Linked DNA regions of Homo sapiens. The protein of the gene in region 1 purifies or fractionates together with the protein of each later gene. This does not show direct contact. Each region holds a gene or a part of one and is shown on either strand. Other genes may lie near its edges.

What was found. Proteins that work in one complex are often made in the same cells at the same time.
Region 2: the proteins of AGAP3 (region 1) and P4HA3 purify together in Homo sapiens (co-immunoprecipitation; one large-scale study listed by IntAct). This does not show direct contact.

The regions. Positions count from the first base shown.
Region 1 is NC_000007.14:151,085,184-151,089,312, forward strand, and holds the start of AGAP3 (arf-GAP with GTPase, ANK repeat and PH domain-containing protein 3), read left to right. Parts: upstream 1-1,291; 5' UTR 1,292-1,558; coding exon 1,559-1,889; intron 1,890-3,819; exon of another isoform or gene 3,820-4,129. UniProt on the Homo sapiens protein: GTPase-activating protein for the ADP ribosylation factor family. GTPase which may be involved in the degradation of expanded polyglutamine proteins through the ubiquitin-proteasome pathway.
Region 2 is NC_000011.10:74,284,105-74,287,665, reverse strand, and holds part of P4HA3 (prolyl 4-hydroxylase subunit alpha-3 isoform 1 precursor), read left to right. Parts: intron 1-1,274; coding exon 1,275-1,438; intron 1,439-1,680; coding exon 1,681-1,857; intron 1,858-3,561. UniProt on the Homo sapiens protein: Catalyzes the post-translational formation of 4-hydroxyproline in -Xaa-Pro-Gly- sequences in collagens and other proteins.

The DNA.
Region 1 (4,129 bases):
AACCACTATATTTCGCAGATGAAACCCAGAGAGGGCACAAGATATCCTTAAGCTTATGCAGGGAGATAGAAACACAGGTTCCTCAGGAGCTTAGGAGACCCTGTGTGTTGATTAGCTTGCACCAGGTGCTTTGGAAGGTACAAGGAACTCGGGAATAGTGACTGGGTTGGTTCTGGGGCTGAGTTGTGTGGGTAATCAAACAGTGGACAGCTTCATGCTGGGAAAAGATCCAGCTTGGCCAGGGAAGTGGAAGTGTGCGTAAGAAGGACGATGTGTGTCACTGATGCCCTAGGATATCTGGGGGTAGCAGATACCCTGCAACATCTCTGGCAGATTTATTGGCTGCGGCCTCTGCAAATGTCACCTCTTGTAGGTTTTAGGAAACGTGTGTGTGTTGGTGGGGGGGAGGGGGCTAACAGAACTGCAGCCCACTTTGGCAATGGGACTGCAGAGGAACTGGGACATTTCAGGGAGCTCCCTGGCCCTAGAGGGAGTGAAAGGACAGGATGGACAAGGGGTGAGGACAAGAAAAATTGAGAGCCACGTGGGCTTTGGTTGGTCTCTCCAATGGGATGAGTAGGGGAGAAAGGCATATACTATTTCATCCCTCCCTCTTCTTCCTCTATGTACCAATGGGGTCGGGTAGCATTTAGCTAATCTCCCAAGTCCGGCAGGGGGAGGGTCTTTTAGGAGAGCACTGCTGCAGCCGGCAGTGGAGAGCCTGGGCAGGGAGACAGGGAGAAAACTCCGGCAGCAGGGTGGTCTCTAGGGCTGACCTCGGAGCCTGGGGACAGGGGAGCCTATGCCGCACTGAAGGCGGGACGCTGTAAGCGAGGAGCAGCTGGGCCTGGGCGGACTCCTCGGCCAATCAGCCTCGGTCAGCAGCACCCTCAGGCGCAGGGCACTGTTTGGGCATTGCCTAGAGATCCGACACCCCGCCCAGATCAGCGCAGGGAGGCGAAAGCGACAGCCGGGCGCGGGAGGAGACCAGGGCAGCTGTCCCCTCCGCGAGGGTGGCCCTCGAGGCAATGCGGGTGGGGGCTGGTGAGGAGGCGGAAGGGCCGAGGCTGAGTGGGAGGGGCCGGGGCGCCAGGGCTGGAGCGCGCGGCTCGGGGGTGGAGGCTGCAGAGCCAGCGAGCGAGCGAGGGGCGGGGGCGCCCGGGCCGGCGCGCAGGAGGGGCGGGGGCGGCGGGGAGGGGGGCTCGGGCTGCGTGTGCCGGAGCCGGCGGGGGCGGCGGTGCGTGCGCATGACGCGGGGGGAGGGCCTGGGCCGCGCGCTCCCGGTCCCGTTGTTGTTGCCGCTGGAGGCTGCTCCGAGGCAGCGGGATCACGGCGCTGGGAAGCGCTCGGCAGCGGCGGCCACAGCGTGCGCGGCGGCGCCTCCTGGCCTCGGCCTCCGGCCCCCGGCCCCCGGCTCCATGCGCTAGCCCCGCGCCGCCAGCCCAGTAGTCCCGGCCCCGCCAGCCCCGCGCTCCCGCTCGCCGCTGCCGCCGCCGCCGCCGCCGCCGCCTCCGCCGCGCCGCCCCGGGCCCGCCTCGGGCCCCACGGCTCCGAAGCCATGAACTTCCAGGCGGGCGGGGGGCAGAGCCCGCAGCAGCAGCAGAGCCTGGCGGCTCCGGGGGGCGGCGGCGCTGCCGCGCAGCAGCTCGTCTGCGGCGGGCAGTTCGGCGGCGCGGGGCCCGGGGCCGGGGGCGGCGGCGGCCCCTCGCAGCAGCTGGCCGGCGGGCCCCCCCAGCAGTTCGCGCTCTCCAACTCCGCGGCCATCCGGGCCGAGATCCAGCGCTTCGAGTCCGTGCATCCCAATATCTACGCCATCTACGACCTGATCGAGCGCATCGAGGATTTGGCGCTGCAGAACCAGATCCGGGAGCACGTCATCTCCATCGAGGGTGAGCGGAGCCGGGGGCTGCGGGAGCCGGGGCGCAGTGGCCTCTCCGGCGCCGGCCGAGGGCTCCACAGGCCGTGCCTGGCCATGCTCTCCCTGTCGGGGGTCCTTGCGCGCTTGAGGACCAGGCCACGAGGTTTGCCGATCTGTGTTGCAGAACCGGCGGGCAGCTTCGCCATATCTCGTTCGGGGACACTTTGGGGTTGGGGGTTTTCTGCTGACTGTGTTCCAGGGCGCGAAGGTGGTGTCGCTTGGGGGGGCCGGGACCAGATCTGTCCAGGCCTGGCCGGGGAAGGTGGGCGCGGCAGAGGGCTTCAGCTGCGGGGAGGTGGGGTCGTGACCGGGGAGGCTTCTTAGCCGCTGCCCGGGCCCTGCTCCGCAGTGGGGCGGGGGATCGGAGCCTCGCGTTAGTGGATGGCAGCCTTCCCGGGCCCAGCGCCCGCAGGCCCGGAGGGTGGCGCTCGCCGCGGCGCCCTCTCCCGACGCACACCCCCTACGCCGCGGCGGCCAAGCGGGAGCGGGCCGGGCCTGGCGCTGGGCTGAGGCTCAGCGACCGCGTGGGAGGCGCCGGCAGGTCCATCCGCGCTTTGGCCGGGTCATGAGCCTGACGGGGATCCGCGGCTCCTCGGTCTGGAGGCAGCTGCTGGGCAGCCGGGTGCTGACCGACCGCCAGGGACACCGCACCCGGAGTCGGGGACCGGAAACCCCCGGCCACTGCGCTGCCTAGCGCTTTTTTCTCTGGGCCCTTAGGCCCTGGACTTTCGACCGCTGAGGGCACAGGAAGTGGTGGCACGCTGCTGGCAGATGCCTCGCAAGCCCTGGTGTGGTGGGTGCTGGAGGCACCCGCAGGCACCCCGGTGGCATGGTGACCTTCGAGCGGGCACGGACAGATGGGCCTCACCCTGGGCCATCTGCTTCCTCCCCCAGCTCTGTTTGAAAGGGGACGCCCACCGGCAGGTGGTGGGTTTGGCCTCAGTGGAAATGCAGTGAGAGCCAAGGCCTTTTGCGATAACATGGAGTTATGGGCAGGGGCCTGTCCCTGACTTGGGCCTTAAGGTTAGGGCCCCACTCCCAGCTTCATCTGCTTGCCTGAGGTTCTGGGGGATAGTGCACCTGAACACCTCCCTTTCTGCTTTCAGAGGTCCCCATAGCCGGGGAAGAAGTACTGGGTCTGGGGGGACCCCATGTGGTGCTGGGTTCTATCTTTTGTTGTGACATGCCAGTCTGACTTCCTTCTGCCTTTTCCCAACCCGTTCTTATTTCTTTCCTCTCAAGGCTGAGTTCTCTGTGAACTAATTAGGTGACAGAAAAAACTCATTAACGTGGATCTGAGTAAATGGCCTGAATCACCGCTGTGGCTGGGGACTAGGAGATGGCATTTGTGCGAGCCCTGGGCCCCAAAGACAGGAGATGACCAATTTTTCCTCTTAGATCTGAAGAGGGTGGAGGCGGGAGAGACATCGTTGCTGCAGCTTCACTGTCCTTGGAGGAAGTAAAGACATTCCTGATTTGCTCCAAGCTTACCTTCCCCCAGCTCCTTCTGGAGGGCGACAAGCCTCGTGGGCCGGCCACAGGAGGGTGGGGGCACATCTGCTTCCGAGCTTTTCCCAGAGCAGGGAGAGGTTTCCGGGCTCCCCTGGCTCCAGCTTGATGAGCAGCGACCCCTCCTCCCCAGCTCAGGGGAGCCTCTGGTTGAGCATCTTTTGTGATGTGAAGGCTGATTCCTGGGGCGCCCTTGAGTTTTTTTTGCCTGATCTTAAATTTAACACAACAGGCAGAATTTCCCCTCCTAGAGCCCTCCCCTGACCGACTTCTCCATTGCGGTTTGGAAATACCCCATGGTTCCGTCTACTAGGCCTGGAAGCTCGGCCTCACCCTCGTGAAATCCCGGGAGCCGGTGTCTCACTGTCACCAGACCGACCCAGCCGCGGCTCACACATCCGTTCTCAGCCCTGCTGTTCCCACTCCTGGGCCCTGCTGCCCTGCTGCCCTGCTGTCCCTCCCTCCCCCCTGCCCAGCCTCTCCTGGCACCGTCATCTTTATCCACCTCACCCGTCTTGCGTTCCCACTTTTCTGCTGTAGGCAGTCTTCAAAAGAAAAAAAAAACCACTCCTTCTCCAGTTTCTGCCCTATATCCTTCCTGCGATAGAACTCCTCTCCATCTGCCAAACCATATTGCTTCTGTCCTGCGAAGCGGTGTCCCCACCTTCTTTCTGCGAGGAGGGAGAGGCGCAGACTCCCTGG
Region 2 (3,561 bases), on another chromosome or scaffold:
ATTGCATGTATACAAAACTTTTTAATGAATCCATTTAGTAACATTATTCCCTTCTGATAATTAGCAAACAATAGGATAAGGAAGTAGCTGTGTATCTACAAACACATGAGTAATTAGTGGTACAAACAAAATTATAATCCAACCCTTCTTTATTTATTTGCACTTGATCTATTAAAATCTTTGCTATCCACTCAAATTTTGTGCTTTTATAGGTGGATAATAGAACATGGCAAGTTGAGATTCCCAGTTTTATTTCCGGCTTTGCAATATTTTCACTGGGGTTTGGGCTTATAATTTCCATTCTCCAAAACTTCACTTCTTCTCTTGTTAAAACAGAATGGTAATTTCTGCCCCTTCCTTTCCTCCTTTGCCAGGGTGATGGTTGTGGTTAGAAGCACACTGGGCTCCTCAGAGAAAGATGCTTTGGGAGCATTAGAACAATTCAGCATCTCCTTCTGAGATGCATTGAGAGTCATGCAAAGAGGCCAGCAGGCCACGGGTAGCTCTGCCAATGCATGGGGCATCTTGCAGCCAAAGTGGGTACAAACAGGTGGGCACAAACAAGACACAAGATTTATTGGGTTTCCCAAGGGCCCTGTGGGAATCCAGTCTAGAGCCAAAGTCTAGAGTCCCTCTGCGCCATACTTCTTTGCTCTGGGTCTAGGCCAGTTAGGAGATTTGAAAGATCTAGTGGAGCCAAGAATGAATTAGCTTCCAATTCTCTGGGGAAGAATAGGTTGGGTCCTTTTGCAATAGGCTTTGGCTTTCTGGACTTCTCTTTCATTGCACTTATCATATTTTGTTGTAAGTGATAATTTAATGTCCTTTTTCTCCATTAGACTCTAAACTCTGAGAGGTCAACCTGTAGCACAGTATCTGGTACATAGTAGATGTTCACTGAAGATTTACTGAATGGATGGGTGAAAGAATGAATGAATGAATGAGGCTTCATCTTCGCCATATATACCATCACAGTATCCCAGAGCAGCCATCTTCATGATCCCTTGGCCTAAGAGTTTTAAGTTCCACTTTGCTTCCCAAAACCCTTTGCACCTTCAGATCTACCAGGATCAAGTCAGTCTTTTAAAAAAATACCAGGTAGTCTTCTGGGAGTGAGGGCCTTGCATCCTCCTGTGTGTTGACATGAGGAGTTATTCAGGAGATCCACTTGCCCATCCTGTGCAGCAGTGAAGCTGGAGGAAACCTTGGTGGCACTCCCTGGGGCCAGTATTTGTTAATCCCTATTTTATATTCCCTGCTCTGATTTCTTCCAGGCCCAGATAATAAGAGGATGGCCAGGAATGTCTTGAAATATGAAAGGCTCTTGGCAGAGAGCCCCAACCACGTGGTAGCTGAGGCTGTCATCCAGAGGCCCAATATACCCCACCTGCAGACCAGAGACACCTACGAGGGGCTATGTCAGACCCTGGGTTCCCAGGTAGGATTCCTCAGGGAAAGAGAAAGGGGGAGAGGCCTGGCTAGAGTTTGAGAAGCTAGAATTGGGATAACATGAGGGGATAGAGCTGATGCATTAAAAACAATAAAGCTCACTTGGGCAGCATCAGAGTGACCACATTCTGTATCTCTTGCATTCCAATTTTTTTATGCCATAGTTCCCCTAAGTTGAGTTTTGCTCCTAGACCCTTCTTCTCTTATGCTCATCCTATTCTTTCCTTCCAGCCCACTCTCTACCAGATCCCTAGCCTCTACTGTTCCTATGAGACCAATTCCAACGCCTACCTGCTGCTCCAGCCCATCCGGAAGGAGGTCATCCACCTGGAGCCCTACATTGCTCTCTACCATGACTTCGTCAGTGACTCAGAGGCTCAGAAAATTAGAGAACTTGCAGAACCATGGGTGAGTGTCCTGAGAACCCGCCAAGAATTTCTCTTTCATCTTCACATGCCTGGAGTTCAGGAGTGTAAGAATAGGCAACCTGAACAACTAGACACCTCAAAGAGCCAAGGAGTTCAGAATGCCAACCATTCCATAAAACTAGTCCATGGTGGAAAAAAATCACAATAGTGCTTGCCTCTAGAGGGAAAGGATTAACTGGATGATGTACAAGAGGATTCTCTGGGGTATTGAAAATGTGCTCTCAATATCTTGTTAGGGACGTGGTACATGTGGCTGTATGCATTTGTCAAAACTCACCAAATGGTCCACTTGAGACCTGTGTATATCATTGTATGTAAGTTTAACCTAAAAAAAGACAAATAAAAAAGAACACTTCAAAAGTGTCAACCATTCTATGTAATTGGTAGAGGTGGGGAAAAGGGTGAAATGACAGCGGCAAGGAGTAAAATCCTAGCACAAATTTACAGAGTTAGAGTAGAAAGCTAAACTTCATTATTTTGTTAAAAAGGAAACCGAGGCCCAGAGAGGGGAAGGGACTTGTTAAGCTCATACATGTAGCTAGAGCCACAGCTAGAACTTAGAGGTACAGTAGTCCCCCTTATTTGCAATTTTACTTTCTGTGGTTTCAGTTATTCTCAGTGTAGTACAATAAGATATTTTGAGAGAGAGAGGTCATTTTCCCATAATTTTATTACAGTATATTATTATTATTATATTTTATTGTTAATCTCTGTGCCTCATTTATGAATTATAAATTATAACATATAATTATAAATTAAACTTTGTAATTCAGTTACAATCATTATTATAATTTCGTTATAAAAAGAACCAAAGGAGGCCAGAATGATCAGGGCTAGCGGGCCCAACGAAGGTGCAGGGCTTCAACTGAGTCTCCAAAGATGGGCAGAATGTGGCGAGAAGTGTTGAGTGAGTGTGCTTTGGGAAAGGGACAGTGACTAGGAAGCAGATATTCAACACAAGCCACTGAGGCATCTGTCTTCAGTTTCCATGGGGGAGCCACTACCATGTGAGCCCAGGGCTGATTCCTGGGAGAGCCACAAACCAGACAGGCATCAGCAGCCCCAGAGAGATGCTTCTAGGGGAAGGAAGTGTGCCAAGGTCTGTGCATGCCAAATGGACGACACGGCCATGAATGACTAAATAGACATCTCTGGGTGGGTCACTTCTCCCATTACCATGGCAACAGGGCTGTTTTAAGGAAAAATTTAGTTATAATGTAATTATGATTATAATTAAATTACAATCATGATTAAATTAAATTACAATCATGATTAGATTAAATTTTGATTGAAGCCATCCCACTGTCTTCACTTGGAGACCCAGCCTGACAGAGCAGCCTCTGTATGGGACATTGCCAGTCTCATGGAAGAGGAAAAAGACAAATGGCAAACATGAGCTGGTTCATAAAGCTTCTGCATGGAAGTGCCAGATGTTACTTCCACCCATGTTTCACTGGTCAGAGCAAAGCATGTGGGCACTACTGCAGTTAACAGCAAGGTTCTAATTCTTCCACAGGGAAAGCACTGCAAGTCACCAAGCCAAGCTGGATGTCAATGGGAAGAGGACATTTAATCCTCCCCCTAGGAAGTGTGCTAAATATTAACAAGAAAAAATGCACCTCTATAAGCATGTTGCCTCTTTAAAGATATTGTCTCAGAATTATTTCTGTCAAGCCAGACATTG